4 linked regions of the Homo sapiens genome follow. Each later gene encodes a partner of the first gene's protein in a complex. Each region holds a gene or a part of one and is shown on either strand. Other genes may lie near its edges. The genes, in order: PPP2CA, PPP2R2A, PPP2R5D and PPME1. A codon is read from its position in the direction of its gene.

The links.
Region 2: the proteins of PPP2CA (region 1) and PPP2R2A are in contact, whole or in part, in a cryo-EM structure (PDB 9C6B), measured with the Homo sapiens proteins. Residues at the interface, in NP_002706.1 of Homo sapiens: Arg89, Tyr91, Val126, Tyr127, Gly128, Asp131, Arg135, Cys266, Tyr267, Arg268, Arg295, Pro298, His299, Val300, Thr301, Arg302, Arg303, Thr304, Pro305, Tyr307, Phe308; in NP_002708.1 of Homo sapiens: Tyr86 (codon at 4,040), Leu87 (codon at 4,043), Lys88 (codon at 4,046), Ser89 (codon at 4,049), Ala173, Asn174, Ala175, Glu190, Asn201, Leu202, Trp203, His204, Ile207, Thr208, Asp209, Arg210, Ser211, Phe212, Asn213, Ile214, Val215, Asp216, Met256, Ala260, Leu261, Asp263.
Region 3: the proteins of PPP2CA (region 1) and PPP2R5D are in contact, whole or in part, in a cryo-EM structure (PDB 8U1X), measured with the Homo sapiens proteins. Residues at the interface, in NP_002706.1 of Homo sapiens: Arg89, Tyr91, Arg121, Gln122, Ile123, Gln125, Val126, Tyr127, Gly128, Tyr130, Asp131, Leu134, Arg135, Ala140, Trp143, His191, Trp200, Arg214, Ala216, Leu243, Met245, Tyr265, Tyr267, Arg268, Cys269, Arg302, Arg303, Asp306, Tyr307, Leu309; in NP_006236.1 of Homo sapiens: Ile80, Lys82, Asn188, Pro189, Ala192, Glu193, Phe194, Asp195, Glu198, Asp199, Glu200, Ile288, Tyr289, Glu290, Glu292, Lys332, Val333, Lys334, Lys367, Phe368, Trp369, Pro370, Lys371, Thr372, His373, Ser374, Pro375, Lys376, Ser413, Pro414.
Region 4: the proteins of PPP2CA (region 1) and PPME1 are in contact, whole or in part, in a crystal structure (PDB 3C5W), measured with the Homo sapiens proteins. Residues at the interface, in NP_002706.1 of Homo sapiens: His59, Arg89, Gln122, Val126, Tyr127, Asp202, Ile211, Ser212, Pro213, Arg214, Gly215, Ala216, Gly217, His241, Gln242, Leu243, Met245, Phe260, Tyr265, Cys266, Arg268, Cys269, Thr304, Pro305, Asp306, Tyr307, Phe308, Leu309; in NP_057231.1 of Homo sapiens: Gly84, Gly85, Met157, Asp181, Val182, Thr186, Ala187, Ala190, Ser193, Met194, Phe197, Leu198, Leu291, Trp298, Trp301, Phe302, Lys316, Val323, Asp324, Arg325, Leu326, Asp327, Lys328, Thr331, Ile332, Gln334, Met335, Gln336, Gly337, Lys338.

The regions. Positions count from the first base shown.
Region 1 is NC_000005.10:134,216,072-134,223,101, reverse strand, and holds part of PPP2CA (serine/threonine-protein phosphatase 2A catalytic subunit alpha isoform), read left to right. Parts: intron 1-7,030. UniProt on the Homo sapiens protein: Catalytic subunit of protein phosphatase 2A (PP2A), a serine/threonine phosphatase involved in the regulation of a wide variety of enzymes, signal transduction pathways, and cellular events.
Region 2 is NC_000008.11:26,350,504-26,357,533, forward strand, and holds part of PPP2R2A (serine/threonine-protein phosphatase 2A 55 kDa regulatory subunit B alpha isoform), read left to right. Parts: intron 1-3,964; coding exon 3,965-4,130; intron 4,131-7,030. UniProt on the Homo sapiens protein: Substrate-recognition subunit of protein phosphatase 2A (PP2A) that plays a key role in cell cycle by controlling mitosis entry and exit. Involved in chromosome clustering during late mitosis by mediating dephosphorylation of MKI67.
Region 3 is NC_000006.12:42,979,915-42,987,580, forward strand, and holds the start of PPP2R5D (serine/threonine-protein phosphatase 2A 56 kDa regulatory subunit delta isoform), read left to right. Parts: upstream 1-4,655; 5' UTR 4,656-4,763; coding exon 4,764-4,790; intron 4,791-7,666. UniProt on the Homo sapiens protein: The B regulatory subunit might modulate substrate selectivity and catalytic activity, and might also direct the localization of the catalytic enzyme to a particular subcellular compartment.
Region 4 is NC_000011.10:74,251,278-74,255,222, forward strand, and holds the end of PPME1 (protein phosphatase methylesterase 1), read left to right. Parts: exon of another isoform or gene 1-353; intron 354-370; coding exon 371-438; intron 439-1,136; exon of another isoform or gene 1,137-1,275; intron 1,276-2,214; coding exon 2,215-2,233; 3' UTR 2,234-3,426; downstream 3,427-3,945. UniProt on the Homo sapiens protein: Demethylates proteins that have been reversibly carboxymethylated. Demethylates PPP2CB (in vitro) and PPP2CA. Binding to PPP2CA displaces the manganese ion and inactivates the enzyme.

The sequences.
Region 1 (7,030 bases):
CTACCCACCTAAATGCCTGATTTGAAGGGGAAATATTTAAATAGTAAAAATAGATGTATACCATAAGAGGTCATTGTTACTAAAAAATCCTGAGGCCATTATTTTGTTAACCCATCAACAATTAACAGTGTTACATGTTCAGAACTGAGAGAATCTAAGTATGCATTTATAAAAGACAAGAGTGAACATGGTTTTTATGTTACTGACTAGCTAAAAAGAATTTTAAGATGTGATTAAGACTTATACAAAAGCCAAGGTTGTTAGTGTATAGTATACTTTGTCATCTTGAGAATCATAATTTGTTGATAGTTTAATAATTTGGTGTGCAGCTTTGCCTCAGGCTCAGTTCTATAATCAGCATTACATCAGTATAACTGGCCGGGTATGTTTCAATCTACAGATTGAAAGGAGTAAATAGTATCAACTTGCTTTTGCATTGACTACAGTAAACAATCTTTTATTATGTGACTTCAGCTTTGTTTTAGCTTGGGTATGATTTCTTGGCTTTGTGCTTACCAAACATGTGGAGAACGTTGTTTGATAGCCAGATTTTTTTTTTTCAAAGAAGTTCTTTACCTAGGTATGCTGTTTTCCATTGCTTTGCAAGCACTATAAATAAAGTGCAGTCATTAGTCATTAAAATGTTAGTTTTAACATTTGTTACGTGAGTATGGAAAAAACAAACTGCTTCCTTCTAATTAGATGAGCTGAAAAATATTTGACCAAGATGACATTCTTATATGAATTGGGTAATATGTTGCTGTGAGTATGTGTGTACGTTTCATTTTAAAGGGTGTTTGGCTCATTTCTCTAGAAGTGATTTGAATATTGAGGACAAGCAGGTGGGGGAAGCATGTTACAGAACATTATTTTTATCATACTTTTATAAGATATTGTTCTCAGTTACAGATGCAACTCAAAGACTCAGAAAGGTAAAGTGACTTGACTAAAGGGGCTAAAAGTGAGATTGCCAAGGCTTGTGGATTCTAAGCCTAATGTTCTGGTATTGCTTCACAGATCCCCTTCTGTTTTCAGAGGTAGTGTTAGTAGTGAAAGATGTAGGTAAATTGGGGCCAAGCTAAATTGGGAAGTCAACACTTTCATAAAATAAAACTTTTTTTTTTTTTTTTTTTTGAGATAAGGTCTTACTCTTTTGCCCAGTCTGGAGTGCAGTGGCGCAATCTCGGCTCACTGCAACCTCCACCTCCCAGGTTCAAGCAGTTCTCCTGCATCAGTCTCCCTAGTAGCTGGGATTACAGGTACCCACCACCATGCCCAGCTGTTTTGTATTTTTAGTAGAGATGGGATTTCACCATGTTGGCCAGGCTAGTCTCGAACTCCTGACCTTCAGTGATCCACCCACCTCAGCCTCCCAAAGTGCTGGGATTACAGGCTTGAGCCAGCGCGCCTGGCCAAGACATTATTTTTATTTTCATTGCTTGAAAGCTTCCTATTCATGTTACATACTGTTGTTCCTCTTTGTCTTGGAAAGAGTAATTATTATTCAGTTTTGGATGTAGCTGACAACATTTGCCCCTCAAATGAGATTGGTGAGATGAAAACCCTAGATAATTTCCCTTGTATTCTTAGTATAAATCATGATCCAGAGACTGAGCTCTAAAGTATTCTAATAAAGTATAACTGACTTTTTATATTGTTTATTGCAACTTATAAAATGCCTCTTTTCAGCAGGGCAAGGTGGCTCACACGCCTGTAATCCTAGCACTTTGGAAGGCCACGGCAGGCGGATCACGAGGTCAGGAGACCAAGACCAATCCTGGCTAACACGGTGAAGCCCCGTCTCTACTTAAAAATACAAAAAATTAGCCGGGCGTGGTGGCACACACCTGTAGTCTCAGCTACTGGGGAGGCTGAGACAGGAGAATTGCTTGAACCTGGGAGGCGGAGGTTGCAGTGAACCAAGATTGTGCCACTGCACTCCAGCCTGGGCGACAGAGGGAGACCCCATTCCCCCCGGCCCCAAAAAAGCCTCTTTTCATCCTCTTGGCTTCCACAGTCAAATGTCATGCATGTGTGTATTTGTTTCATGGTCTCCTAGGCAGGAAGCTGTAATGCAGTTAGTTTGGAGTTGACTTCATGAGGAAACAGAAAAGGTGAACATTCCCACTATTCAGAAACACAGGTTCCCCAACCCTCCCTACGTTCTCCACTGGGACCAGAATTGTATGTTTTCAGAAAATTGGCTGTAAGGCTAAGTTGAAGCTCATGTACTGTAGAAAGAATGAAGGACCCTTCAGGAGTATGTGGGATAACATTTGTATTACCAGTCTGGTGTGGCCCTGTTTTATGGCAGCAAATATGTTCCCTATCTCATGGTAAGTCAGGTTTGTCAGAGTTACCTGTGAGATAGCCTTTGCTTAGTTTGGAAGGGGTAAGTTAGGAAAACTAAGAGACTGGGTTTGGTGGGGTCTTTTATCAGGGTACTGAGGAGAGAGGCAAAGCTATATGTAACAGGGAGACACTATTTATTCTTTCTGCTTTGACCCATTTCTCTTACTTCATTATCATCCTTGCCTGAGAAAGCTGTCAACCTCCACTCATACACAGGCAGATCTGAATTGGATGAGAACCATGAAGGAGGAAGATTTTTGTTTTTGTGGGCTTTTTTTTTTTTTTTTTTTTTTGAGATAGAGTCTCACAGTCGCCCAGGCTGGAGTGCAGTGGTGTGATCTCGGCTCACTGCACCCTCTGCCTCCCAAGTTCAAGCAGTTCTCCTGCCTCAGCCTCCCAAATAGTTGGGATTATAGGTGTGTGCCACCACACCCAGCTAATTTTTGTATTTTTAGTAGAGACAGGGTTTCACCATGTTGGCCAGGCTGGTCTTGAACTCCTTACGTCAAGTGATCCACCCATCTCAGCCTCCCAAAGTGCTAGGATTACAGGCATGAGCCACTGGCACCAGACCTGTTTTTGTTTTAAATAGATTTTCTTTTGGCTTCTGGGGCAGAAGTGGTAGACCAGGCTGAAGAAGGGAGAGGTGTCTATTGTCAGTAAATGGCTGAGAGGTGGGGTTTGAAAGAATGGTAAAGAACAACCTGAGATTAACTGCTTTTTTTTTTTTTTTTTTTTTGATACGGAGCCTCGCTCTGTTGCCCAGGCCAGAGTACAGTTGCATGATCTCGGCTCACTGCAACCTTTGTCTCCCACGTTCAAGTGTTTCTCCTGCCTCAGCCTCCTGAGTAGCTGGGATTACAGGCATGTGCCACCATGCCTAGCTAATTTTTTTATTTTTAGTAGAGACAGGGTTTCATCATGTTGGCCAGGCTGGTCTTGAACTGCTGACCTCAAGTGATCCGCCCGCCTCAGCCTCCCAAAGTGCTGGGATTACAGGTGTGAGCCACTGTGCCCAGCTAACTGCTTAACTTCTTCACATTGCAGTATTATTGCCTGTTTATTGGTCTGTTGTGGATTGTGGTTTAGAATGGATGAACAAGGCAGTGACACAGATGCGTGTATATCTGAATCTGGGTATTTTTTAAACTAAATGTGACCAGTTGGCCAGTCCCTCTTGCACCCTGTGTTGCCACTTCTGCCTTAGTTTAGTCATTTAGTTGCTACTACAGATGGGGATTTTTACCCTGCTGGTGTTGAGGCTGGAAGGTTGCAAACCTTTGTCCTAGATGGGGACGAGGAGTAGAATGGGAGACAAGCAGTAGCATGTGTTTACCTGGCCAAAGGCCTGCAAAATGTAGTTCACAGAGGTTATGGAGTGTCATTGATGCTATCGTGTGACAGTGTACATTTGATTTTGGAACCAGTATTTAATAAACCTTCATTGTATGCATTATTGTCACTATTGAGCTTTGTCTAAAAAGCACTACCTTATTCTCGTGTATAAGGATTTCTTAGTTTGGTTTTGCTCTAATTAATAGCACAGTTTTGGATTAGTCAGGAGATTGACTTTATAGTTAATTCTAGATAGGGAATGTTTTAGAATGCTTGTGCCGGTGGTGATCAAGTAACTTATTTTTCTGCCACTAATCTGTAAATGAGCAATAATGCCCACTATCTATTTCTTTTGGCTGGCTTTACTTAATAAAATAGGCTTAAGACATGCTTTAGGATGGGGTAGAATTCTAGTAATGGAATCAACCTTAAAGACCATCTAGGCTGGCGGGGCACAGTGGCTCACGCCTGGAATCCCAGCACTTTGGGAGGCTGAGGTGGGTGGATCACGAGGTCAGGAGATGGAGCCCATCCTGGCTAGCACGGTGAAACCCCGTCTCTACTAAAAATACAAAAAATTTAGCCAGGCATGGTGGTGGGCGCCTGTAGTCCCAGCTGCTCGGGAGGCTGAGGCAGGAGAATTGCTTGAACCCAGCAGGCAGAGGTTGCAGTGAGCCGAGATCGTGCCCCTGCACTCCAGCCTAAGCGACAGCAAGACTCCATCTTAAAAGAAAAAAAAAAAAAAGAAAGAAACAACCATCTAGACTAATTCATCTTACACAGATGAGGGAGGAAACTGAGACCCAGAGTGGTTGAATCTTGTTCATGATGTATTATTGTGACAATTTTTTAATAAGTAGATATATAGCAGCATTTCTCAGTTGTGTAGTAGATTAAAACTTCTTTTTCTATGCAGGAATGATTGGGAGTGTTTAATTCATTCACATATGTAGGTTAGTTGGTAAAGGTTGAGTTTAGTCTATTGTGCATATGAGACATAGGGCTTTAAGGATCTTTCCTTTTGGTCAGAGGCAAAGGTGATATTGCAGAAACAGATGGGAAAACTCACAAATTTTATATTTTCTTTTATTACACTTTTAGAATTATCCCTCATTCCCAACATTTTTCTTTTATTTAGGTCCTAAGCCTTAGAGCCAAACAGAAAATACTAGTTACTAGAATATTACCTGGAGGGTTAAACTTTTAAAATATAACCATACTGATTTTAATCAAAGAAGATTGAAATGTTTCGTGAAATATTAGTGGTATCTGTTCAGTGTAGTTAATGAAAGACAAGTAGTCATGCACCACATAATGACATTTTGGTCAGTGGTGGACTGCATGTGATGGTGGTCTTATGAAATTATAATGGAGCTGAAAAATTCCTATCACCTGGTGACCTTGTAATGTCATAGTGTAACACTTTATATTGTTTATGTTTAGTTATACAAATACTTAACATTATGTTAACAGTTGCCTACAGCATTCAGTACAGTAAATGCTGTACAAGTTTGTAGCCTAGGAGCAATAGGCTATCCAATAGCTTAGGTTTGTAGTAGTCTATACTATCTAGATTTGTGTAAGACCACTCTGTGATGTTCACACAACAACTAAATAATTTGATGTATCCCTGCGATTAAGCAACACATGATTAGTATGAAGAATGGTTTGATAGTTGAAGGAAATTAACTCAAAACTCATTTGCTTCCAGGGCTAGTAATATGTTCTACATCATGTATCACCCCACGCCTCAAACTCTAGCCCTGTACACTAACTTATCACAAACCTTGGATTTTTTTGCACAATTATCAAAATGACATATCAAACCAACCGTACATCTTGACATAAAAACAGTATGAGACAAAATGAAATTCTCTTGGGATATTGAAAAAATTTTTTTTGCCTGTGAATTTAGTAATTTTACTTATTAAGAATTTTCAAATGATTTCAGTTCTTAAACTGAAAAATAAAATTCAAAAATTAATTGCATTTTTTCCAGTGTTTCTTCTATGTCTTTATATTGGTAGAACTGTCCAACTATATGGTAAGGATGTGAAATGTTAAATTTACTTGAACTAGAGTTACAATGAACATTAGAATTAATAATCAGACTTCTTTTTTTTTTCTTTTTTTGAGAAGGGAGTTTCGCTCTTGTTGCCCAGGCTGGAGTGCAGTGGCACGGTCTTGGCTCACCGCCACCTCCACCTTCCAGATTCAAGCAATTCTCCTGCCCCAGCCTCCCGGGTAGCTGGGATTACAGGCATGCGCCACCACACCCAGCTAATTTTTGTATTATTAGAGATGAGGTTTCTCTGTGTTGGTCAGGCTGGTCCTCAAACTCCCGATCTCAGGTGATCTGCCTGCCTTGGCCTCCCAAAGTGCTGGGATTACAGGCGTGAGCCACTTCGCCCGGCCAATAATCAGACTTTTAGTAGTAAAATTACTTTCAAAAATGGAGATTCCTTTGTCAAATAGTACTATTATTAGTACTAAGATTGTAAAGAGGTTATTTGTGTCTGATTTTGAGTTTGATGCTACAGAGAAGACAGGTTAGGCCTGCATTGACGTTTTTCATCAAGGGCAGAATTGATGATACAGAAACTTGATTTCTGTCTAGGCATGGTGGCTCATACCTACAATCCTGGTGCTTTGGGAGGCGGAGGCTGGAAGCTCACTCGAGACTAGGAGTTTGAGACCAGCTTGGGCAATGTAGTGAGACCACCGTTTCTACAAAACAAAAAACAGGTTTCTTTAGTTAAGTATAAATCATTGATCTGTGATTAATCCAAACACTTTTTCCTCAGTATAGACCTTGGGGTTCTTCGGTGTTTGACTACCTTCTTTTGAAGGAAACCACTTTTTTTTTTTTTTTTTTTTGAGGCAGTCTCACTCTGTTGCCCAGGCTGGAATGCAGTGGCACAATCTCAGCCCACTGCAACCTCCGCCTCATGGGTTCAAGTGATTCTCCAGCTTCAGCCTCCTGAGTAGCTGGCATTACAGGCATGCACCACCATGCCCAGCTAATTTTTGTATTTTTAGTAGGGGAGGGGGTGTTTCGCCATGTTGCCCAGGCTGTTCTCAAACTCCTGACCTCAAGCGATCCACCCACCCTGGCCTCCCGAAGTGCTGGGATTACAGGCATGATCCACCGTGCCCACCCGAAACCACTTGTAATATACCTTTAGGAGAATGCTTTTAGTTACATCATGATCCCTTTCATGTAGCTAACAACAAAAATGAATATTAACCCCAAATATTGGAACTCGTATTTTGAAGCAAGTTATTTCTTGGTATACTTTAGTGCCAGAATTGGTACTGTTATGTGATTAACTGTTTTTGAGAC
Region 2 (7,030 bases), on another chromosome or scaffold:
ATCCTTCCCACTTCAGCCTCCCCAGTAGCTGAGACTACAGGCGTGCACTGCAACACTTGACTAATTTTTTTTTTCTCTCTCTCTTTTTTTGGTAGGGATGGTCTCACTGTGTTGCTGATCTTGAACTCCTGACCTCAAGCAATCCTCTGTCTTGGCCTCCCAAAGTGTTGGATTACAGGCATGAGCTGCGACTCCTAGCCAGAGCTGCTTTTTATATGTTTATTGGCTATTTGGATGTTATCTTTTGGAAGTGACTATCGAAATCTCTTATAATTTTCTGTGTTGTGTGTCATTTTTCTTACTGATTTGTAGACTTTCTTTACACTTTTTGTAGATGAACTCTTTTTCAGTTACATTTGTTGGAGGATCCAGGGGCAGTGGCTCACGCCTGTAATCCTAGCACTTTGGGAGGCTGAATTGGTTGGATCACTTGAGCCCAGGAAATTGAGACCAGGCTGGGCAATATAGCAAGACCTCATCTTTTTTAAAAAACAAAACAAAACAAAACAAGAAAACCCACACATTTGTTAGAAGTATTTTTCATTCTGTGACTTGCCTTTTCATTTTTTTGAATAGTATATTTTTATAAATAGAGATTATTAATATAATACAGTTGATCAGTATTTTTCTTAGGGTTACTGGTTTTTCTGTCCTGTATAAGAAATACTTTTCAACCCCAAAATCCAGGGAAGACATTTCCGTTATCTTTTAGAACTGTATGACTGGTACTGTAGCTACTAGATCCATGTGGCTATTCAGATTAATGGGGAGTTGAGTCTGTTCTCTCTCCCCTAATGCAAGACCCTGTTGCAGTGGTCCCTGTCTCCATGGCCCTCTTTAAAGTCAGCCTTACTACCTTATAAATAAGTAAATAAATAAATTTAAATTATTAAAAATAAATTGTAGAATTAACTTCCTTAGTTGCAGTAGCCACATTTTAGGTGTTCAGTGTGTGCCTAGTGCTCAACATGACTAGTGGCAACCATACTGGACAACACAGATACAGACTATTTCCATCATTGCAGAAAAGTTCTCTTGGGTCCTGTTATCCTAAAACTTAATTATTGTACCTTCACATTTATATCTCTTATTCATCTGTAATCACTTTACGAGTGGTTTTGGGAAGGGGTCGAGCTTCATTTTATTTCCTATGAATAGTCAACCTAACACCATTTAGTGAAAAGACCATCCTTTCCCCATTGCCCAGCAAGGCAACCTTTGTCATCATTTAGGCCTGTTTCTGGGCCATCTGTTCTGTTTCATTGGCACATTGGTGTATCCTCATGCCAGTACACAGTCTTTATGACTTTGCTTTAAAACTTGGTTATGATGTCCTTTAGTGAATTCTGTTAGCATCTGTGTTGAAAATGTGTGATTTTGGTTTTGTGTCCTGTGTTTGTAATGTATGTAAAGTATGTGACATAGCTCATTCTAAATCCTGCTTTGAAAGTCTTTATTGAATGCCTGTTATATGTGCCAAGTACTGTTATAGGTGCTGGGGAATAAAGCACATCTAAACTTACTGTAGAAACTTTCATGCAAATAGATTGTATGGTTAGGAAGATGATTCTCATAGTGATCATAAAGGCAAGCAAGAAAAGAGAGGGAGGTGAAAATGCTGTGCAGGTAAAGCCAGTATGAATTGTTGAAGGATGTGTCACAATTCTGTATGACTGTAGGAGAGGTTTTTAAAACAAAAACATTGTGTTTGATTTTGATGCATTCTCATTTGAGTGGCTCAGTGTTGAGTATGCGGTTATGTGTCTTCTTATTCAGGCTTGCTCACTGTACTTTGTTTGTGCAGGGAACAATGCTATCATGATCATTATAATGTAAACATCCCCTCCCAAAGTGTTAGGAAAAGTCTGCTGCAGCTCCCTGTGGTCTACTGTCAGTTACCACTTGTACCCATCTGTTTTATAGCCTCTTCAGTTTTGTTACTGCTGCTGTCATTTCTGCCATTACTCTTTGTCCTGTGGACTTGTTTTTAAAAGTTCTGTTATGATCACTTTAATAAAGTTTCAGGAGAGAGGGGAGGCTAATGCATGTGCTCAGCCTGGCATCTTGAGCTTTTTAGACAGAATTTTCTCCTTTTGTGATACATTAATTTATTTCCTGTTGCAAAGAGATGGAGCTTCTTGCAGTCCACGAAACTGCCATATACCTCTATGATTTTGTTTTTGGATTCTGTAAGATACCATGTTTAGTAGACCTGTGTTGTTGTCCACGAGTCTACAGGAAGATGTTCATGTTTTGTTTCAGAAAATATTTCTGTTGTTTTGTGCTTTTCTTAACTCATCAAATACAATGTGTGGCTCGCCCTTGGCCCTTCATATTGCTTACCTTAATTGTGTAGACCATAACCAGTTTCTACTTTGACTAAAGTTTGACGTACACAAGTTACTTGAATGTGGGGATTCTGTCTATCCCTCTACGCCCTAGTGTACATAGTACTATATATTATAGTCTCTTTAAGTGTTAAATGAAAAACCAGTCTAAAATGCAGGATTTATATTAAAAATCGAGTTGCCTGCTTAATGGTATTGTGGTTTCCTTGTAGACTATAATGATAAATTTTGTGAGACTGGGTGAGTCATTTTAGGTAAAAGATTTGTGGAGCTTTAAAGTGATACTGGAGTATTTATATATGTTAATGGAATAGGCTGTCTAATTTTGTGTATGGGTATGGTGATGAGACCAAGGCTCTGAGTCTGATTTTTACCCCTTGTGTATCCCCGATATGTGGATCGTTTTGTGGGACATGTATTCTTAACATTGGCAGACTTGCCCTCTAATAACTGATAACTGCTGTCCAAGGGTTCAAATACAACCATCCATGAATGAACAACCCAGATCATCAGGCTGCTGGAAAAAACAACCCAAAACATAGACTTTCAAGATGATTCAGTGAAGTTTCCTTTTGATATGGAGAATAGTAATAGGCTGTTTTTATTATCAAGAAGTTCTAAACATTTCACTGGGTAACTCACTTTTACTTAAAATAGTTGACTGTCAATAATATCTCATTCTATTTTTTACTTAAACTTTTTCCATAGGTGGTTCTTTGAACTAGACTTTCAAATTTTTTTATGAAAATGTTTTTAATCGTGTGATAATAGGTCAAAAGATGAAATTCTGAACATGATTATAATTCTCACTTTTGCTGAGATATTAATGCTAACCAGAGTAGTTCAAAAGTAGTCCCTTTATGAGATAGCTTAAATTACATTTTTTCAAAGTGATACTAAATGAAATTAGTCATCAGTGTGTGCCAGGTTCATAAGATGAGAAAGCAAATTTAAGGCGAGTAAGCAGTTGTTGATGGGGGTGCATGGGGCCATTGCTGGGTAGTGCTGAATATGGACTTGATTGGTAGCAAAGCTGTCTGGAACAGTGGTCTTGGGGTGGGAGGTAGGGGTCAAATGGTATCCCTTCTTTTATAAGAGCTCTTTTTTTAAGCTTTCAGCAGCGAAATAACCAAAAGGCGGGCAGCAGAAAGGAAAAGGACAATACATCATATTAAATAACAGATCGGGGAGTTGACCCTAAAGTGGGCATAGGAAGAAGGTGTGCCTCACCTAGCTCTTTCTGGGCAAGACTTTATCATTATTTTTAGATGAACTTCCTTATTATGGGTGCTCAGTTTTTTTTCATCAGTTTTTTTCATAGACTATACCATCAAATACATAAGAGTAAATTAGCAATCAAATTGATCCATATTTAACGTCATTATTTCCCTAATGAATTGAGCTTATTTATTCAGCTTTATTTAGCCTTTTCCCCCGTTAAGTTTTCTCATTTAATCCTTGAAGGCCTTTAGAAATATAAAAAACAGAATGTAATTGTATAAAGACACAACTAATGGGGTATTGAGAATGTGCAGGGTCCTTTGGAATTGATTACATATTTGATTATTTTGAAATATTTTTCAACAATGGTCCATATATTTTTGTTTTCATTTTAGAACAAAATCCAGTCTCATAGCAGAGGAGAATATAATGTTTACAGCACCTTCCAGAGCCATGAACCAGAGTTTGACTACTTGAAAAGTTTAGAAATAGAAGAAAAGATCAACAAAATTAGGTGGTTACCCCAGAAAAATGCTGCTCAGTTTTTATTGTCTACCAATGGTAAGTATACATATTTTCTTTCCATGTGCCCACTGTGTGTACCTGTTGCACATATCCTGTAGCCTAGGAGAGGAATCATTTAACAGAGATACTTGTAAAAAGGACTTTTGTTTTTCTATACAGAATGTAAACTCTACTTTTTTACTGTCACTTGCAGTTTTTAGATTCTCTGAAAGATTCTCTGATAGCAATTTTTTGTTTACTACACCTCCAATTTGTAGTGAAAAGAATGGGCTGCTATACCATTGGATTTAGGTCAGGTAATATTTCTGTCATTTCTCAGTCTCGTAATCTTGGGCAGGTTACTAACACTGAATTGAATTTTCCTCAGCAGCAAACTAGAGATAGCAATTTTTTATTATAGTATTATTATGAATATTAAATAACTTCACATACATCATGAGTGCAAGTGCTCAATAAATGTTAATTTATTCCTCCTTTTTAAGTGTTTGTAAACTACACAGAGTATCTCAAACTGCAGATACAAAATACTCAAAGGATGGTCTCCATTCCAGGATACGCTATAGGAGAGCACTTTCTTACTTGATCACCATTAGCATATTGCCTTCTTCCCAGCAATCCACATGGCTGGAAGGAGATTCCTCTCCTACTGTTTACTTGCCAAGGGAACATTTTTTGTTGTTTTTTGAGACAATGTCTGTCGCCCAGGCTGAAGTGCATTGGTGTAATCACAGCTCACTGCAGCCTCGACCTCCCTACCTCAGTCTCCTGAGTAGCTGGGACCACAGGTGAGTGCCACCACACCCGGCTAATTTTTTAAAAACATTTTTGTAGAGACTGGGTCTCCCTATGTTGCTCAGGCTGGTCTTGAATTCCTGGGCTCAAGCAGTCTGCCCCGCTCAGTCTCCCAAAGTGCTGGGATTACACGTGTGAGCCACTATGCCTGGCCCAGGAAAAGTTGAGTGAGGATTAAAAGTTAGTAATGACAGGCCGGGCGTGGTGGCTCACGCCTGTAATCCCAGCACTTTAGGAGGCTGAGGCGGGTGGATCACGAGGTCAGGAGATTGAGACCATCCTGGCTAACATGGTGAAACCGTGTCTCTACTAAAAATACAAAAAAATTATCCGGGTGTGGTGGCGGGTGCCTGTAGTTCCAGCTACTGGGGCGGGGGTGCTGAGGCAGGAGAATGGGGTGAACCTGGGAGGCAGAGCTTGCAGTGAGCCGAGATCGCGCCATTGCACTCCAGCCTGGGCAACAGAGCGAGACTCGTCTCAAAAAAAAAAAAAAAAAGTTAGTAATGACTCTACCAGAATTTGAAATCCTTTATGATGAGTTGGGTGCTTTCTCTTTGTTCTTATGAAAAACTTTTTCCTGTGAATTGTTTGGACTTTGTTGGGGTCTTGAGTCTAAAGGGAATCATTAGAGTGACTGAGGAGATACTTTAGTTTCTGGGTAGCCGTAGTCTATAAAAATTTGTGATTAAAACTTTTTTGAGGTTGGTGCTAGGGTGAGGGGAACCTCTTATTTTCTCATCCCCTCACTATTAATTTAAAAAGCAAATTCTAACACCTAGACCATAAACATTTGCAGAATATATACTTAAATGACTTCAGGATGAAATGGGGGAAGAAATTCAGCACTTCCTCCATCTAATTGATGCCCCTCGTCCACAGTATTAGTTCTTAGAAATGCTGTTCACAAATGCCTGATGGCCATCAGCGTTGGCCGCCTCCTGGGTGCCCGTTTTTCTGATCATGAAAGCTTTCCCCAGCCAGTCCATTGAGATGCGTACCCTCTGCCTTCTCTGTTTTCACAATAGACTGCATTCCCCTCTCTTGTCCTTATTAGAAGAAAAATAAAGAGAAGTAACTATTTAAAGCCTGTAAATCACAGCACTATGGGTGGAGGGAACAGTTTATTCCTGTCATATGCTAGCTTCTAGTCTTGGGTCAGTTTTAATTTATATGGTAAACTAAGTTATTTCAAATAGCTTCAAATATTTTAGACACTGTTCTTTGGCATCAGATGATACATAATTAAACCATTTATATAATTTCTACTTTTAGAAGTAAATGTTCCTAGGGAAATGTGTTGTTAACATTTTATATATTGGAATATTTTTATGTCAGTTTATTTCTTATAGGGCTACATCAGCTTTCTTATAAAGAGAACTTTTTAAATGTAGGCTGAGTTCAAGAGAATAGTATAGTGAAGCCCTGCATGCTCATCATCCACTTCTGACACTCCTCAGTTCATGGCTAATTTGTGTCTCGGATCCTTCCCCTTCCCCTCCTCCTCAGTGTTATTTCGAAGCAAATCCGATTACAACGTCTATGGATTAAATCTTGTTTAAAGACATTAGAGAATGCATTGTAGATTTTTGTCTTTTGTTTCTTAATACTAAGTAAAATACAGCTAACTGGGGGCTGCATTTTTTAATGCTAAAATAAGTGCTTAATAATAGAGTCCAATGTGGAAGGATAAAGCAGATTATGAGAATCATATGAACTGTTGTGTCTGGGTAGATGGGAAAAGGATGGGAGGAGTAGGACTTGAACTATATCTGAAAAACTATTTGGAAAGAAGGAGACTTAGAGAAAAATGTCAACATCTGTTGATTCTGAGTGATATCTTTTATATTATTTTGTGTATTTTTCTCTGTGAGTTTTTTCTGTGAGCATAGTAACACCCCCCCCCCCCAATATAATGGGTCTATATAAAAACTATATCTGTGGGAGAATGATGGAAAATAGTACCAAACTTTCCAGGTTTGATTAACCAAAATTAATCTTATAAAAATATTTGCATTGGCTTTCCATGATCATTATATGAACTGGGTTTCCCAGATCATTTTTACTTAAAGGACGTCATAGTCACCTTATAACTTGAGTTAATTTAATGTTCCTTCAAGCATTTTAATTCTCTTTCTCTTTAATCT
Region 3 (7,666 bases), on another chromosome or scaffold:
TCACTTTCTATCCTAGAGCGGGGCAGGCAGCAGAGCAGGCAGAAGGAAAGGAGTTCAAGGCTTCTGTCAGCATAACACCAACAGTCGACTTCCTGCGTGTGCTGTTATTTAGATTCCATCCTTCTCTTCACCTCCACTGTTCTGTACAAGACACTCAGCTAGTGGTAGGCCACATTTCCTTTTTTATGGCAACAGGGTCCTACTCTGTCACCCAGGTTGGAGTACAGTGGCACGATCCCCATTCATTGCAGCTTCTACCGTCCCAGGCTCAAGTGATCTCCCACCTCAGCCTCCCGAGTAACTGTAGCCGGGACCACAGGCACACGCCACCATACCCAGCCAATTTTTTTTTTGAGACGGAGTTTCGGTCTTGTTGCCCAGGCCAGAGTGCAATGGCACGATCTCAGCTCACTGCAATCTCCGCTTCCCAGGTTCAAAGAATCTCCTGCCCCAGCCTCCCAAGTAGCTGAGATTACAGGTGTGTGCCACCACACCCAGCTAATGTTGTATTTTCAGTAGAGACGGGGTTTCACCCTGTTGGTCAGGCTGGTCTCGAACTCCTGGCTTCAAGTGAGCCACCTGCTTACGCCTCCCAAAGTGCTGGGATTACAGGCATGAGCCACTGCGCCTGGACTAATTTTTTATTTTTTGTAGAGACAGAGTTTCTCTGTGTTGCCTAGGCTGGTCTCAAACTCCTGGTCTGAAGAGATCCTCAGGCCTCAGCCTCCCAAAGTGCTGGGACTACAGGCATAAGCCATCATGTCCCACTGCATTTCCAATTATTAACAATTATTTTCACTTACAATAAATGAATTGGATGGTGCCAATCTCCATTTTCTAGACCTTACATTCTCTTTCAGCTACTGCTCAGCTTTCTCCATCTCTCCTTTCTTCTTGAGGCAGTCTTCTATTTTGTACATTATACATTCCTGAAAATTTGAAAGACAAATATATGAAAACTATTAGATTTGCATATTATAAGGGGCTGGGCGCAGTGGCTCATGGCTGTAATCCCAGCACTTTGGGAGGCCAAGTGGGTGGACTGCTTGAGGCCAGGAGTTTGAGACCAGCCTGGCCAACATGGTGAAACCCCGTCTCTACTAAAAATACAAAAATTAGCTGGGTATGGTGGTGTGTGCCTGTAGTCCCAGCTACTCGGGAGGCTGAGGCAGGAGAATGGCGTGAAGCCGGGAGACAGAGCTTGCAGTGAGCCGAGACTGCGCCACTGCACTCCAGCCTGGGTGACAGAGTGAGATTCCGTCTCAAAAAAATAAATAATAGAAAAAAATAAATAAAATAGCATGCAAGAATGTACTAACCAGGAACCATGGCTTGTGTCTATAATCCCAGCTATGGGGAGGCTGAGGCAGAAGGATCACTTGAACCCAGGAATTTGAGGCTATGATTGTGCCACTGCACTCCAAGTGGGTGACAGAGCAAGACCTTGTCTCTTAAAATATATAAAATTAAAAGAAAAAAAAACTAAATAAAGAATGTTCTAGGTACCTAGATTCACATGGATGAAAGTTCCCATTTGGTAGTGCTACTATATGTTTCTTGGTCCCCTATGTCCCAGAGGAACCAAGGGCTAGATAGATGGTACATGGGCCTAAAGAGGATATGCCTGCTTTCCTCAGTAGCAGGCAAGCTCTAGGCCTCAGGACTATAGTGCTCCTTGAGGCCTTGGAGATGGGTAAAAACATCAGTTATCTTGCCTGGATCAGCACTCATACAGACACAAATACCCACCCACAAATAAATGTCCTTTTCTCCCAAGCTTTTCTCCCAGCAGGTAACAGCGGGCATGTAGTCCACTTTGTGTTACCCTGAAATCGTCATTAGTCACCGAAAGCCAAATACTACTTCTGTAAGATCGCCAGGACCCTACATTTGCCATCTTCACTTCCTCACCTCTTGATGCTCACTCTTCCACTCACTAAAAACGGTCTTCCACTCTCTGAAAAAATCACCCATAATCTTCTAATTGCAGAATCAAGATGATGCTGTTCTTTCTCTGACACTACTGACCAATTGTCTTTTATTTCCTTTGCCATTATGACACCAGTTGTCCTCCTACAACTCTGATCACTTCCAGAAATCATCCTCAACTCTTCCCTTTCCGTTACCGTCCCCCCCACAATACAATGAATCACCATATCCTGTTGATTCTACACATTTTCATGCTCCATCCTCTCTTCTCCATCCCCACGGCCACTGTCTTGTAACATTGCTCTCCTGGGTACCTGGGTAAGGGACACAGGTTTTGTGTTTTTTTTTTTTTTTTTCAGATGGAGTCTTGCCCTGTCGCCCAGGCTGGAATGCAATGGTGCGATCTCGGCTCACTGCAAACTCCACCTCCCGGGTTCAATGGATTATCCTGCCTCAGCCTCCTGAGTAGCTGGGATTACAGGCACCCACCGTCATGCCTGGCTAATTTTTGTATTTTTGTAGAGACGGGGTTTTGCCATGTTGGCCAGGCTGGTCCTGAACTCCTGACCTCAGGTGATCCGCCCTCCTCAGTCTCCCAAAGTGCTGGGATTACAGGCGTGAGCCACTGCGCCTGACCTTTTTTTTTTTTAAGACTAAATATTTTATTTTATATAGAATTTTAAAAATTTATTTTTTGTACATGAATAAGTTCTTTAGTGGTGATTTATGAGATTTTGATGCAGCCATCACCCAAGCAGTGTATACTGTACCCAATGTGTAGTATTTTTTTTTTTTTTTGAGACGGAGTCTTGCTCTGTCGCCCAGGCTGGAGTGCAGTGGCATGATCTAGGCTCACTGCAACCTCTGCCTCCCGGGTTCACGCCATTCTCCTGCCTCAGCCTCCCGGGTAGCTGGGACTACAGGCGCCTGCCACCACGCCCGGCTATTTTTTTGTATTATTTTAGTAGAGACGGGGTTTCATCGTGTTATCCAGGATGGTCTCGATCTCCTGACCTCGTGATCCGCCCGCCTCGGCCTCCTAAAGTGCTGGGATTACGGGCGTGAGCCACCGCGCCCGGCCTCCATTGTATCATTCTCATGCCTTTGCATCACAGGTTTCTTCTTTTTTTTTTGTAGACGGAGTCTTGCTCTGTCGCCCAGGCTGGAGCGCAGTGGCATGATCTCGGCTCACTGCAACCTCCACCTACCGGGGTCAAGTAATTCTCCTGCCTCAGCCTCCTACCGGGTTCAAGTGATTCTCCTGCTTCAGTCTCCCGAGTAGCTGGGACTACAGGCGCGCGCCACCACGCCCCGCTAATTTTTGTATTTTTCATAGAGGCATGGTTTCACCATGTTGGCCGGGATGGCCTCGATCTCTTGACTCGTGATCCGCCCACCTCGGCCTCCCAAAGTGCTGGGATTACAGGCGTGAGCCACCGCACCCTGTCTAATTTTTGTATTTTTAGTAGAAATGGGGTTTCACCACTATGGTCAGGCTGGTCTCAAACTCCTGACCTCGTGATCTGCCCACTTTGGTCTCCCAAAGTGTTGGGACTACAGGCGTGAGCCACCGAGCCTGGCCACAGGTTTATTCTTTTTGTCGTCATTGTTGCTGTTTTGAGACAGAGTCTTGCTCTGTCGCCCAGGCTGGAGTGCAGTGGTGTGATCTCGGCTCACTGCAACCTCCGTCTCCCGGGTTCAAGTGATTCTCCTGCCTCAGCCTCCCGAGTAGCTGGGATTACAGGCGTGCACCACCACACCCAGCTAATTTTTGTATTTTTAATAGAGACGGGGTTTCGCCATGTTGGCCAGGCTGGTCTCGAACCTCTGACCTCAGGTGATCCTCCTGCCTCAGCCTCCCAAAGTGTTGGGATTACAGGCGTGAGACACCGTGCCTGCCTGGTTTACATTCTCTCTTAATCCTTTGTTTATACACATCTGTGATTCACCAGACTGCGAACTCTTTGTGGGCATAAACTGAGTCTTACCCATTAGAACACGGACTTGAGCAGGGTGGCAAGTAAGGGATGGATTTCCTGAGACAGTCAACAATGAAGTTGCTTTTCCACTGCGTTCCCAACTGCTCAAATCTAGCTGGTTCCCCAATCCCAGTACACTTGCAGTAGCAACGGGGACCCTCTTCCTAAAGTTGCACCAAGCCAGGGATTCTCCACTCATTTCGCCCAGGTCCTAGCCCTGCCAGGCTTCCCCTTTGCTCCTCTGCAACCCCTGTCTAGGGAGGCGGGTGTCTTGGAAGGTCCTTGGGAGCTCCCTCCATCAATTTTGCATCTGCAATTAGGGCTACTTTACCCCAGTGAAGAAAGGTGCCCTCCGTATTAGGGCTTCCTTCCTCCAATTCCGACTGGACAGGGTAGCAGAGCGGGCAAAGTGTGAGAGCCTTTAGAAGGAAAGAGCAGGGCTCCAAGCGCCGCGAAGAATGGCCGAGGCCGACGCACAGCAGACGCTGGAGTGCAGCCCTCCTAGCCAAGCTTGGGTTTCCCCTTATCCCCGCCTCCTTCTCTAAGCTCGACCCACTTTAGGGCGGGACCACCCACTTCAGCCAATTCTGGAAGCCGAACCCTGGCGGTTTGTACTATTTCTTTCCAATAAGAAAAAAAGGAAGCAGCTTGGCTCCAATGACCAATCCGAGGAGGCGGCGCCTGGTTGTCAGGCAGTTTTGTAGGAGTTCGGGCCAATTGGAGGCGCAGGCACCGCTCGACCCGGGCGCAGCGCGCAGGCGGTGGCGAAGAGACGCCGAGCGGGCCGAGTGCGGCCGAGCAAAGCCGGAGCCGGAGCGGGGCCGCAGGAGACGGGCCGGGTCCGGACGGGCCGAGATGCCCTATAAACTGAAAAAGGAGAAGGTGAGCGTGGCCCTTTTTCCCCCACCGCCGCCTTGGAGCCTGCGCGGAGCTCTGGGAGGGGCCGGAGCCAGGCCCGGGACAGCCCCAGACTGACCCTCCCGTCCAGCCCCCGCAGGACTCCTGGGGCCAGCCCTCCGCCCCCGCGGCTGGCAGCACCCCCAGCTTGTGCCGCAGCTAGGACAGCTCCCCCACCTTGCCCCGGAGAGACTCCCCCCACATACACCTCCCTCCCTTCTTCCCTTCTCTTACCCCCGGCCCAGGGTAACCTCCTTCTTCCAGATCTGCCCCATTCCCAGGTCACTGTCCTGCTTTTTCTGTCCCCCCCATCACCCCTGGCCCCGATCCCCCTTCGGTTTGGGCAGCCCCTCATCTGAAACTGCACCTTCCTCCAGAATTGCCCCCTCGCCCCGCCCTGAGCAGCCCCTTGTCTCCTCTTCCTACCCGCCTGGGACAGCCGCCCCGCAGTCCCCTACGGCCCCTTCTCTTTCCATGCCAAGCCCCTGACCTAGAACAGCGCTGCTTTCTCTCTCCTCCACCCAAATCTGGCCTAGGCCCCTCCCTCTAGTTCTTCCTTCACACACAAACTTGTAAGCAGGACTGAGCCCTTCTGTTGATGGAACCTCACAACGTTGGTGCTGGAAGGGACCTCTGAGCGCATGCAGTGCAATCCCTAATGGTACAGATGAGGAGACTGAGGCCCCGACAGGGCAAGGGACTTGTCCAAGGTCACACAGCCTGCTGGAGGCCCAGCTGCAATATCAGGTCTCCTGACTTAAAGGCCTCTTTTGTATCAAAGCCCTCCTAACTGTCACCCAAGTGCATCCTAGACCAGTCACCTTTCCTAATCTGAGTAGGCTCCTCACCCTTATTCTTAATCCTAGGATAACCTTTGCATTTTTCCTTTTTTTTTTTCTTTTCGCACCAGTGCTGGATTTCTGCCTTTCCTAAGCTACACCATCTTCAAATTGGGAATTTGTCCTCACTGTCAGATTATTGTTCCTTCTTAGCCTGCAGGCCAGCCACCCCTGAACACCCATGTCTTTATCATGATGTCCTGACACAGGCCATTTCTTTTTTTTTTTTTTTTTTTGAGATGGAATTTTGCTCTTGTTGCCCAGGCTGGAGTGCAATGGCGCGATCTCGGCTCACCACAACCTCTGCCTTCTAGCTTCAAGCGATTCTCCTGCCTCAGCCTCCCAAGTAGCTGGAATTACAGGCATGCGCCACCACATCCGGCTAATTTTGTATTTTTAGTAGAGACGGGGTTTCTCCATGTTGATCAGGCTGGTCTTGAACTCCTGACCTCAGGTGATCTGACCCCCTCGGCCTCCCAAAGTGCTGGGATTACAGGTGTGAGCCACCGTGCCTGGCCCACAGGCCAGTTCTTAATGTTGCCTTCTTTCACCTTCCTCATCTACCTCGGTGCTGCCTTCCCCTGCTCCTCATCCGTGCCTTTTTCTACCCTCTGTTTCCTGCTGTTGCTGAGGTCTGACTCAGAGGTGTGGTTCCTTTGAGGTACAGACTCACACATAGGATGCTAGGATACCAGTTCCAGCCTCCCCCAGCTTCTCCTCTCCTGGGGCTGGCCCTTTTTGGTGGGGGTTGGCTCTGGCCTGGTGTTCTGGCCACCTGCTCGATGACCCCAGAGGTATATTGCTTTCATTTGCCCTCTGATTGGCTGGGTTACTGGGCTGCCATCTCTGACCTTTTCAATCAAACTTTTTCTCCTGGGGCTGTTCTGTATTTGCCAGGCAGCTCTGATTCTGAGTTGTCCCCTTAACCTTTCAGGGCCTGAGGTTCTAAGTACAGGGTTGGTGATGGTGTACTAGATAGTGAGCCTCCTGGGAGTAGTGAGCTGGACAGGGTTTTGTGCCCCACCCAGGCCCTGTCCTTGGGGAGTGGGCATGCGGAGGTGGTTTGGGTAGCTCAGTCGTAGACAATGCACACAGAAATCAGCCACAACAGGGGCTAAGGGAAATGGAATTCGGGGAAAGCTGGTGAGGTCCCCACCCATTTGTAATTTTTAGTCTGTTGGACTAGATACTGTCCCATCCACAGAAAGCAATAGCCTACTAGATTGTGAAGAAGACAAATTGCCAGTGAGATTTGCTAGGACCATGGGTGTAAACGTTTGGTTGGGAAAGGGTGTTGGAAGTAACGGGGTGCATGGAGCCAGGCATAACTCTCACCTCCCTATAAGGTTTTTCTGCTCTTGATTTTCAGTTGCATTTGGCCTTCTTCAATGGTTGGCAGGCTCTAAGGGGCAGGGGGGTTGCCAGTGTGACTGAGGTTTGTCTGGATGGCTGTGGGTGGAGGATCTTTATTGCTCATCTATGACCTGTCCCCTCTCTCCTGGCCATCTTTCACAGCTTCCTCTCTAAAGCCTTTCTGAGCCCTCAGTCAGGAGTGAACTCTCCTTTCTTTTCTGGATTTGCAGAACACTTAGTAGGCCACTTATGGTCCTTTTGTGTTTGGCCTTGGATGGGAATTAATTGTGGACAAGACTTTTCTTCCCCTTTGAGATAATAACTAAGTTTCATTTTGGTTTGACAACTCCTTTTCACACGGTAAGTACGTGCTTAGTGGATAGGTGCTAAGATAATCTCTTGGAGGGATTCGCATCTCTCCTCTTCCTTCATGTTCTCCTCTGGGACTTACCTCTTTTATTTTCCTGAGTAGGGTGCCCCTGCCCCCTCCGATTTTTTTCTTGTTCATAATAATAGTAATAACATTGACCAGCACTACGGTTTTCATGTGCCTTAACACTGTGCTGAGGGAAGAGGGTATTATGATTGTCATCATCTAATAGATGAGGAAACTGAGGCTCAGAGAGGCTAGTTAACTTGCCTGTGATTACACAGCCAGTAAGAGTTGGG
Region 4 (3,945 bases), on another chromosome or scaffold:
CCAATACCCCCAAAAGCCAGAGATGGAAGAGGGATGATTAGGGTAGAAACTGCTCCCTAAACCACAGGCACAGTTAGGAATTAATATGGGCTCCTCCTGTGAGAAAACACCATTCTGTAACTCTGAGGGCACACATAAGCCCTTCACGTCATTCCTCTTGAGCTCTATGGAGCTATCCCTGGCAAGGATAGTGGGGAGGAGTCTTCTAGCTCTGCTAGGGAGGGCCTAGGTCCTTTTAATTTCAAGCCACTCAGACCTGTGGGTGGGATGAGGGCACCGTAGAGCCTAACCATCTAACAGTAGCTCACAGCCCAAGGCTAAGCCCCATCACTAACCTTTATATGGCCTGGAATATCTCTCCCATTTCCAGGTAGCTGAAGCTGTTGCCACTTTCCTGATCCGGCACAGGTTTGCAGAACCCATCGGTGGATTCCAGTGGTAAGGCGGGTACAAGGGTTTAAGAACCCAGCAGTGCTGGCCGAATCTGACAAGCAGACACTTGTAGGACTGTAAATATCTCTGCCTTACCCCTGCCTGGTTTGGTCACCATGCCTTTCTTCCTCCTCCTCAGTGAAGAGCCTGGCATGTCTGTTTCTACAAAGCCATGGTTGGTTGTTTCTTTGTGCTGTGCTCCCACGGGTTGATGCTGAGGCTGTGATTAAATTGTGCCTAGTCTCACTCCCCACTGTGATGTGCATTTCTTCTTGAGGTGCCCCTTTGAGGAGGCTGGGATAGGAATCAGTCCTTTTCCAGGCTCCTAGAGAAGTTTTCTTTGGCTTCTCCTGCCCTGCTGCCAAGGAAAGCTGGGCAGGCCATGGAGCAGGGCTTTTTTTTTTTTTTTTTTTTCTTGGCACAGTCTTGGTTCACTGCAACCTCTGCCACCTGGGCTCAAGTGATCCAGTGCCTCAGTCTCCCGAGTAGCTGGGATCACAGGCGTACGCCACCGTACCCGGCTAATTTTGTTTTTTTTTTTGTTTTTTTTTTTTTTTAGTAAAGATGGTGGTTTCTCCATGTTGGCCAGGCTGGTCTTGAACTCCTGGCCTCAAGTGATCCACCCGCATCGGCCTCCTAAAGTGTTGGGATTATAGGGATTATAGGCACAAGCCACCGCGCCTGGCCTAGAGCAGGGTTTTCTACAGTGTTGCACAGTGTCTTCCCATGGCCAGCTACTAAGCAAGCTGGGAATGGAATGGGTGCCTCTGCCAGGCTTGCTTCCCCTCCCTTTCCGAAGCTGGCAGAATATTAGCCACTCTGCAGGGGTGATCCTGGAAGCTCTAGAGCAGGGTTTTCAACCTCAGCTTTATTGACATTTTGAGGTGGATAATTCTTCATTGTGGGGACTGTCCTGTGCATTGTAGGATGCTTAGCAGTATCCCTGGCTTTTACCCACCTGATAACAGTAGTACCCCTCCCACACACGGTTTTGACAAACAGAAATGTCTCCAGATTTTACCAAATGCCTCAAGGGAGGCAAAAATTCCCCCTCTATTGGTCTAGAGGAAGAAACAGGGCCAGGTCTCTCATCCTAGGTAGCTCTTCATCTGTTTAGGGAAACACAGTTGGGCTCTTTGTTGAGGAAGAAGAGAGGCATGTTGACCAAACCAGGTGGTATTGACCCACCTCAGCCAGCTCCTAGTCTGTACTGCAGAAGGCCTTTGATCCTCAGAGAGCCCACAACCCTCATGAGGAGTCATTCCTACCATTGAAAAGTCTCTTCTCTGATTTTGGTGAGGGCTTGGGGAAACTTGTTCCCCACTCTCAGAAAGTTTGCAGAAGAAATATTAAGAAAAGGAAATGGCTTCTGCGTTAGAGAACTCTGAATTCCAGGGCCTGGGAGATGAGAGTGACAGGGCAGGGTAAGCACTGGAGATGATGGCAAGACCTTGGGACAGTGAACCACAGAAGCGACACCCCTATGCTGAGCCATCCCTCTAACAACTGACCATTCATGGATCCCAGGAACCAACAATAAAGACTTAATTTCTCTTACTAAACAGTGTTTGGCTGGGGCCCTTCGACCATTTGGAGCCTTGGGCAAATGAGCAGCACACTGAGAGCAGACCCTGGGTCCAGCTCTGGTCAGGGCTGTGAAATGGGTCAGATTTGCCAGGGCCTTGGTGGTCATTAGGGAGGGCTTCCTGGAGGATACAGATAAGCAAGGGAAAGCTATTGATAGTTACATTTGTTTTTCCTTCTCTTTCTGTTCTTCCACAGTGTGTTTCCTGGCTGTTAGTGACCTGCTGTCCACCCCTCCTCAACATCGAGCTCTGTTGTAAATACGTCGCACCAGAGGCCACTGTGATGCCACTGTCTCCTCTCCATCCCGCCCAGCCATGTGACACTGGCTCCCGGTAGACGGGCACCCCGAGATGTACCAACCTTTTCATGTATTCTGCCAAAAGCATTGTTTTCCAGGGCCCTTGACCAACATCGGCTTCCCCAGTCCAGGGCTCCCCTGCTCCTTTCCCTTCCCTGTACTGGGGTAGCTCCTGCCTGCTCTCCCTGCGTTGCCTAGGGTAAAGCCTCCAGATTTGCCATACTGAGCCCCTCTTCCTAGCATCAGGCGATACATCTGAGTTCAAATGTCTTCCCAGGCTCAGGGACCTCCATTCCTTGAGATTGTCTTGGCATGGCCCAGCCCTGCCTCATGGGATGGACAATGCATGGGGTGGTCTTTATTTTTCCCTTTCAAATAAAACACTAGTCAGGTACCGTTTTATCCCAGTCGTACTCTTCCAGGTTTGGAAGACCCAGAGAGGCCAAGATCCCATCCTTAGCCATAGCGAGCGGTGGTGGTGGATAGCATCACAAGAAACGAGCCTGAAAATCAGGTCCAGCCGGTCCAAGCACATGGCCTCCCATCTGGGAGAGCCCACTGTCCCACTCCCACATGTCTGGGCACCTGCCCTGGGCTGAGGCCAGGCTGCTCCAGGGGCCTCCTGCGCCCTCACCTGCCACAGAGCAACCCAGGTTAAATACAGCCCATGCACAAAGCCACAGGCCAAAGCCTATGGAATTGTTTTTAATCATCAAATTTAACCATTTTCATAACTGGTTCCTGGAGGTGTGCAGTGCCCCCTTGCCTCTTCAAACCTACAGCTTCTCTTTGCCATTTGTGGATTTCACATCACTCCACACAGAAACATTACAGCCTGGCATCCCCAGTCTTTGCCTTCTTCCAGCTGCCTCGACACAGCACTGTGGCCTGTCCCTATTGCCCAGGCACGCCATTTCCAAGGGCAGGAAGGGGCAGTGTCCTGAAGCCCATCTTTTCTGTGACTGTCTTAGGTGATGTGTAGCCCCCTCCACCTTTCCACTCAACAACCTCCCACCCCTGTCCTGCTGCATGGTCCGGAGTCTGGGACCTACTTTGTTTTTTGTTATTTATGACCTTGTTTAAAGAAAATAAATATCTCCCAACCTTTATTGGTCTGGTCTTTCTCTGTGGAATTGTCCTTATTTCTGCTGATATGGGGGCAGGGGACAGCTCATTGGACTTAGTTGTCATGGAACTCCAGAAACCCCTTTCCCTATAGCCCTTCAGTGTGTTATGCTCTGCCTGTCCCCTGATCCAGAATGCCCAGTGGGATGGTCAGAGCCACCCTCCTCTGCAGCCAGGATGGGATTCCAGTCCCATCTCTCCTAATTATCGGCTGTGTCGACTTTGGTCCAGAGCAGGACAATCTGTGCACTGTCCACATGATCTCAGTCACCATAGCTTCACTTATGTGAAACTTCATCTACAACCCAAATCATTTCCTGAGCTCTGAACAGGTAGGCCCAGGTTCCTCCTCCTGTCTCTCCCAGATGACCAAAAGCCACTTCATATTGACTGTTTCTAAAGCTGAATCCACCTTCCCCCGGAAACTTGCTCCCCATGAAACTTGCTCTTCCTCCAGCGTTTCCTGGCTCAATAAGTGATAGGTATCACCATCTCTCCAGTTG